Linked DNA regions of Homo sapiens. The protein of the gene in region 1 interacts with the protein of each later gene in a pairwise test. Each region holds a gene or a part of one and is shown on either strand. Other genes may lie near its edges.

What was found.
Region 2: the proteins of HIBADH (region 1) and TM6SF2 interact in binary tests that used the Homo sapiens proteins (3 or more experiments, as listed by UniProt).

The regions. Positions count from the first base shown.
Region 1 is NC_000007.14:27,530,093-27,534,009, forward strand, and holds part of HIBADH (3-hydroxyisobutyrate dehydrogenase, mitochondrial isoform 1 precursor), read right to left. Parts: intron 1,257-3,917; coding exon 1,100-1,256; intron 1-1,099.
Region 2 is NC_000019.10:19,266,523-19,270,439, forward strand, and holds part of TM6SF2 (transmembrane 6 superfamily member 2), read right to left. Parts: coding exon 3,823-3,917; intron 3,755-3,822; coding exon 3,651-3,754; intron 3,248-3,650; coding exon 3,165-3,247; intron 2,233-3,164; coding exon 2,108-2,232; intron 1,566-2,107; coding exon 1,464-1,565; intron 1,192-1,463; coding exon 1,099-1,191; intron 88-1,098; coding exon 1-87. UniProt on the Homo sapiens protein: Regulator of liver fat metabolism influencing triglyceride secretion and hepatic lipid droplet content. May function as sterol isomerase.

The DNA.
Region 1 (3,917 bases):
TATATGTACTGGGAAACCAAAAAATTTGTGTGACTTGTTGTGGTTGTCTGGAACTGAACCCACAATATCTCCAAGGTATGCTTGTGTGGTATCTAGGTATATGTATTCTTTTTCTTTTTTTTTTTCTATTTGAGACGAAGTCTCACTCTGTTGCCCAGGCTGGAGTGCAATGGTGCTATCTCAGCTGACTGCCATCTCCACCTCCCGGGTTCAAGCGATTCTCCTGCCTCAGCCTCCTGAGTAGCTGGGCTTACAGACACGCACCACCACGCCCGACTAATTTTTTTTATTTTTAGTAGAAACTGGGTTTCACCATGTTAGCCAGGCTGGTCTCGAACTCCTGACCTCAGGTGATCTGCCCTCCTCGGCCTCCCAAAATGCTGGGATTAAAGGCATGAGCTATCGCGCCTGGCCGTATTCTTACTTTTTAATCAGGAAAAACAAACAAACAAACAAACAAACAAAAACCAACCCTCAACTGGGAGAAAATAAGCACTGCAGAAATCTGAAAGTTAGCTGGTCTAAAAATTATTTTCTGTAGTTGAGAACATAGACTTTCTAAAGTTGAGATCTCAAATAAGAGAAGGATGACAGTTTGCTTTTCCAATGACTTAACTAGTTTTTATATATAAATCCATATATTAAAATCTTAAAGCAGGAAGATGTATTTGGAAATCTATTATCAATGGGAAAATCCTCTCTTCGTGATGCATATATGCACTGCCAGTGTATTATTAACAATGAGAAAATTCTCACTGTTCTCATTTAAGAAGTTGGTAAATTAACATAAATTAATGGTGAACGAAATTTTACCGGCTCATATAAATAAACCCAAGTGCGCACACACACACACACGCACACACATACACACACACACATGGTCTGGCCCATTCTTCTCAACCAAAAGGCCAGGAATAAAAATGAACAAGATAAGGATTTTCATCTAAGTTAGGTTTTTACTCATTTTCAGTGAGAGTGAATATTCTAGTAATTTTGCCTCTTACCTGAGACATATGCTTTATTAAGAGAAAGAGAAGGAAGGTGTTATTGGACCGTGAAACGTTTTTCCTTCTCTCTTGGGTGTCTACATTTACCATACCTTAGCCATGAGTGTTGTTCCAAATCCACCCTGATAGTTATTAGCCGAGGGAACGCCATCCATCACTCCAGGTACAGGATTATAAGTGTCACTTGACCAACACCGTCCTGAGCTCATATTTAGGATTTTAGCCAGTAGTTTTGGGTCAAGCCCTAACCTGTCAAAGGTCAAAGAAAAGAAGTGTTAAGTGTCAAAATGTACACGTCGTGCGTGACTTATTTATGTATGGGGATGCTCCATCTTCTCTCTCCATTTATTATATGTCTTCTAAAATCTAAGCAGGTTGATACGAGAGTGAAGAATCCAATTTTGAATTATAGAGTACTAAACACTACTGGTTAAATAAGAATATTTTTGAGCCAGGACCATTTTGCATTTGGAGAAAACCTTCTATGTTATCCTATTATTAAGAAAAAATAATATACAATTGCATAAAAATATTGTTGGTTTATCACACTCATGGGTTTTCTAGTCTTTGGACATTACTACATTTATATGTCACATAAGAACCTTAAAACAATATGATAATTTAAATTCTACATTCTTTACCCACAAATGATATATTTCAGAAAGAAATACTGACAGATAAACGATGCATCATGGGAGTCTGTGTGAATGCATTTATATGTATGTTTATTCCTTTAGTTTTTATGAGAATAAATGCAAGAGATGAGCCAGGAGCTGTAAACGAGCTTAAGAAAAGTTATTATAAAAGAAGACTTTTTGCTGCAAACTTTTCCTTATTTATTAAATCTTTATTAGACAATCTTGCTTATGAAGCAAGTCTGCACAGAGTTGTGACATATGCTATCTATTCAGAGACATGCATTATAGTTCTGGGTCAACTGCTGATAAGGTTACTGATCCTGATAAAACAAAGCTTGCCCAAGCAGAAACATCATTTGTTCTATCACTGGGCTGATGGCATAAACGGCTGTTCAATGTGGACCCTAGAAAAAATAATAGAATCAAAATGCTCCATTACTTGGATTCTAAAGATATAATGCAGTTTGGGAAGCACAATTTTGCTAGGTATCACTGAATCAAGTTTCAAATAAAACTTTATTCCTAGCAATTTATTTGGTTTCTTTCATACACAGAGCCATTATGAAACAATTGTCATAAAAGCTTTCCACTTTTTCTTAAAACCAACCTCTTCCAGAAAATAAAAAAAACACTGAAAAGAGACACTTATGTAAATGTTAAACAAACTGTGCATCTTGGCACGCTCAGATTGTTTACTCTGTGTGTCTAAAACACATGCCTGTTTATTTCAAAATCTGAATATCATGGCCAATAAAACATTTTTTCAGATGCTAGAGCAGGGGGCTGAGGCTAACAGCCAAAAATATGTATGGAATTACCACATAATACAACTGTTATGTAATCAGGCTTTCAAGGGGTAGCTGTGGTTCCCAGACTGCTATGTGGCATATCATGTATCTGAATTCATATGGTGGCCCATGTTATAGTGATGGATTTTACTAAGGATTGTAACAGATACAGAAATTCAGTCTAAATTGGCTATCATTCATTCTGTTCAACTGTAGATTCCCAGAGAGAAACCCAACAGTTTCATTCATTCTTTTATAAAGATCCAAGTTCACTGCATGCATAGTATGCTACTGATGCTTGCTTTCTCCTTTTAAATAAGATTAGGCTATCAGTATGCTACTGTAGTATATCACTTAGGAAAAGATAAAGCCAGTGTGCTTAGGGAATAATTGTGAAAAGTAAAATCACAATTAACAATTAGTTAATTTGCTATAACTGCAAAGTACCAAATGTTCAAGAATGCATACATCTAATATGCTCCATAAGGAGAAAATACTTTTAAAGACTCCAAAACGTCACTTTCTCTCTCCATTTGAAATATAATTTCAGGGCTTCCTAACTTAGATCTTTTAAGATGGTTCATCATATTTAAAGCAGCAGAATTCCTTCCTTCTTTCTAATCTACCAGGTTACACTCAGTAGTAGCTCACAAGAGCTTTTACAGCTAAGGAAATTCACTCTTTTCTATAATATTCAACAAAATGGTGAGCAAAGCTAATTATCCTAACTTTGTAAAACCCTACATTTTTCTTGAATGTTCAAGGAAAAGTACTGGTATTGATTGATGGAAACCCTTTCTGGTGAACACATTACTATTTAGAAGCATCCTGAGGGGCACACACAAAAAATCAGGTGGCAGTTGTTTCATTCTCACTTTTCAAATCTGATGCTTCCCCACCGTGCTGATTCCCTTCAGGAGATAGTTATTCCCTCTCCACTTCCCTCCCCCTGCCCCCACCCGCAGCAAAGTGTATCATTAAAAAGAGCAAGTTAGAAGTGTTTTGCATTTCATCTTTCTGAGGATTCGTTCTCTGGCACATACATAACTGACAGTTAAAATTAGACATGATATTAAAATCAGTTACTGAAGTCCTCTGTTTTCCACTGTGCCCAAGGCTTGTAATGGTCTGAAACCAGCTAGAATACACAGTAATTGTCATTCAGAGTCTATCCTAGAACGTCATGCTTCACTGGAGAAGACTGAGTTTCCATTCGAAATCAACAAATTAATCCAAGACAGGTATCTGAAAGGGCAAGTTTAATAGGAAGCAGCTACTGGGCTCTCAACCATGATAAAATGTTATTGCTGTTTCCCTGTAAATTGGCTGGGAACATATGATACTTTCTGCATAAGAGCCCCATTGCTGTTCAGAAGATATACAGCTCAAGCCATCAAAAGAATGACAGTCTGTCAGTCCCCATAATAACTTGCCACTGGATGTGGTTCGAGAGTGCATGCGTGCATGCATGTGGCTTTACAATT
Region 2 (3,917 bases), on another chromosome or scaffold:
GTCTGGAAGCCAGGAGCAACCAGGGAAGGTGAGAGCATAGGCAGCCAGGCCGCAGAAAGGCAGGACATAAAACATGTACATCAGCATCTGCAGGGGCGGGAGGAGAGGGGCACCAGCCTGTGAGATGAGCAGCTACCCCAGGTGGGTCTCCTGAGACCCCTGAGGTGGAGGCCCTGAGGAAGGATCTGGATGGCCTCAGACCCCACCCAGGCTCTCTGCAAAGTGCTCCTCTATTTCCCTTGGGGATCCTTGCCCCCAACCCCCGAACACATACACCAAACCTACTAACCTTTCTCTGAAAGTGGCATGCGACCCTGGCCTAGCCAGTCGGAGCATTCCAGCCCCCTGTCCATGATGCTCAGTAAGGGATGGGCAAGTGATTCACGCTGGGCCAATCTGAGCCTGCCTAAGACTTGTGCTTAAGCTCGGGGGTAATAAGGGCTCACATTGCTCTGGGGTGGCTGAGTGGGGTGCATGGAAGCCTGAAGCTGCCACAGGCTGTCTCTGCCACCCCATAAAGGGACTGCCTGAGAGTGAAGCCATGCAAAGAAAGCAGAGCTCAGAGGCCGGGCATGGTGGCTCATGCCTGTAATCCCAGCACTTTGGGAGGCCGAGGTGGGTGGATCACTTGAGGTCAGGAGTTCGAGACCAGCCTGACCAACATGGCAAAACCCCGTATCTACTAAAAATACAAAATTAGCTGAGTATGGTGGCTCACGCCTGTAATCCCAGCTACTTGGGAGGCTGAGGCAGGAGAATCACTTGAGCCCAGGAGGTGGAGGTTGCAGTGAGCCGAGATCATGCCATTGCACTCCAGCCTGGGCCACAAGAGCAAAACTCTGTTTAAAAAAAAAAAAAAAAAAGAAAAAGAAAGAAAGAAAAGAAAGGAAAAGAAAAGAAAAGAAGAGCCCAGAGTCTGCACCTTGAGCACCTGGATCCAGCCATACCTGAAGACCACATCTGTCCTTTTTTGGTAGGACAGTAAATTCCATATGGGCTTCTGCCTGTTTGAGTTGTGCTTCTGGCACCTGCTTCAAAGAGGCCCAGTGGACCCCTACCCATGGCAGGGGTGTGGTCTTCTCCCCGCTCCCCTCTCACCTGCACCTTAGGGTAGGCCACAGGGTCCCGCAGGTATGGCTCATACTGGTAGATATAGACAAAGCAGGCATCTGTGGGGCAATCAAGCACCACCTGGAGCAGACAGACATACCAAGAACCCTCAGACATACCTCCCACAGGAAGCCTCCCCCACCCTCCCAGGCCCACACCCCTTGCTCTGGCCTCTCCCAGCCCAGCTCAAGTTGGGCTGGCTGGGAGAAATGGGGCTTTGTCATGGAACACTCAGGTTAGACTTGATGAAGAACTTCCTTGGATGATCAAACAGGAAGGGCAGTGTGGGAGAGGTGGGTCAGGGAAGGGAGACTGGTGGCAGGGGAGGGGGAGACCAACCAGCGCAGACTCACCAGGCCCCGGAACAGAGTGAAGAAGCCAGCAAGGATGAGATATATGACAAGGGCCAGGTCAGCCGGACGCTGCAGGAGTCCCTTTCTTTGTTCCTCTTGCACCTGGCCCAGGGGAGAGAAACAGACAGCATGAGAGGTAGTCAATGACAAGTATTCAGTAGGTACTCAATAAAGGTTCCTAAGGCTCCTCCCTTCTTTCTTTTTTTCTTTTTTTTCTTTTTTCTTTTTTTTTTTTTTTGAGACAGGGTCTCATTCTGTTGCCCAGGCTTGAGTGAAGCAGCACAGTCTCAGCTCACTGCAGCCTTAATCTCCTGGGCTCAAGTGATCCTCCCACCTCAGCCTCCCGAATAGCTGGGACCACAGGCATGCACCACCACATCTGGCTAATTTTTTAACTTTTTGTAGAGTTAAAAAATCTGGCTGTGTTGCCCAGGCTGGTCTCCAATTCCTGGGCTCAAGCGATCCTCATGCCTTGGCCTCCCAAAATGTTGGGATTACAGGCATGAGCCACCGCACCCAGCCCTCCCTTCTTTCTTGTGACAAAGGAGAACCTTCCACAGAAATTAAGTCTTTGACCAAAAGCAACTGACACGGGGAAAGTTCAGGCACATTGGGACAAGGCCTAAGAGGGGTAAGGCACTCACCATGTTGGCGGTGCAGCGGGTTAGCGCCCGGGGCTGGCTGAAGACCTTCATGCCAGCCCAGCATGGCACCAGCAGGTAGGGGATGGTGAGGAAGAAGGCAGGCCTGATCTCGGAGCTGTATTTGCCTTCCATGGTGCAGGAGAGAGGGCATCAGCCATGCCAGAACCCTGCTGGACATCTGTTTGTTTGTTTGTTCTGAGACAGAGTCTTGCTCTGTCACCCAGGCTGGAGTGCAGTGATGCAATCTTGGCTCACTGCAACCTCTGCCTCCCAGGTTCAAGCAATTCTCTTGTCTCAGCCTCCTGAGTAGCTGGGATTATACCTGGCTAATTTTTGTACTTTTAGTATAGGCAGGGTTTCACCATGCTGCCCAGGCTGATCTTGATCTCCACGGCTCAAGTGATTGATGAGGCAGGTGGATTGCTTGAGCCGAGAGTTGGAGACCAGCCTGAGCAACATAAGGATTACAGGCATGAGCCACCACACGTGGCCTCTCTGGCTGGACATCTTGATTCAGAAATACCATCCTCATTCAAGCTCCACCACCTTCCATGGCTCCCTAGTGCCCACAGGATGATGTCCATACTCCTTAGCCTAGCCTGCCTCAATTTACCTTCTGAATATGGATCCTACCTTCCAGTGGGTTCTTTGCTTCCTACAAATACACCTTGAGTGTTCCCTTTGCTGAGGTTTTGCCATGCCAACCTCCCAGACTGCCTTCACTGCTCTACCTCCCAAGACCTACCCCTGAAGCTTTCACCCTGTCCCCAAGATTCACCCTAAAATTCCCTTCCTGTGTCAAGACCATTCTGGGTCAAACCCCTGGGGCTGGGAACCATTGCCTGGGGAGGAAGCAGAGTTGGGTTCTCCCGCCTTCCAAGAGGAAACAGGGACCGGAAAGGGGTGGGCTGCTGACTGAGGCTGTGGACACGCAAAGAGGGAGGTGGGGCCTCTGCAGACATCAGGGAAGGGATGGAGGATCCAATGGGGGTGCTTCTAGGTGCAGGGCAGTGACCAAGCCCAAGAGAACCTGGATTTCCCAAAGCCTTGTCCTTACCAAGAATGTTTCCTGTAAGGAACACCAGGATGCTCATGGCGAAGGAACCCAGCCAGTAGAGTCCAAAATTCCGGTATCTCTTCCTGAGCAGGGGATGGAGGGGTGACCAGCAGGTAGTCACTCCGTAATCTCAGAGCCCCAGCCAGGGCCTGGAGACCACCGTGGGTTTCCCAGCTCCGGGTCCCTTTCAGTTTTGCCCAGGATGGAAGGGACAACAGGGAGTTGAACGGGGAAATAACAGTGAGACCCTCTGTCCAAGAACAGAAGTGGCTGCCCAGGCACAGGGTGGATGTAAGCAATGCTAGGCCACCACCTACACCTGAGACGTTCCCTGGAACCTTCTCCTGGCCACCCCTGGCTGGAGCCCTAGAGAGGCGTCCTGATTTCTCCTACAGACACTTCTGGCTCCACCCTGCCCTGGGACCCCATCTGAGGATGCAACTTCTCTCCCAGGGTCAGGGGCCACCCTCTCCCTGCCTCCTGCACCTTCTGCAGATGGCGCCGGCCATGGCCAGGTAGAGGAGGTAGTGAACAGTGCCATCCCAGTAGCAGATGAAGACTCCGTGCGCTGTGCGCAGGTATGGCTCTCCCTGTGGGGGCAGGTGGGAGACTCAGACGGGCAGTGCGGTAGGGGGCTCCCTGGTCGTCCCCCAAGTACCTCCTTGGTGTAGAACTCCATGAAGCCCACCACATAGCTGTCTTCCTGAAGAGCGATGATGAGGTCCACAACCGAGGTGAAGGCGAAGACAGCGA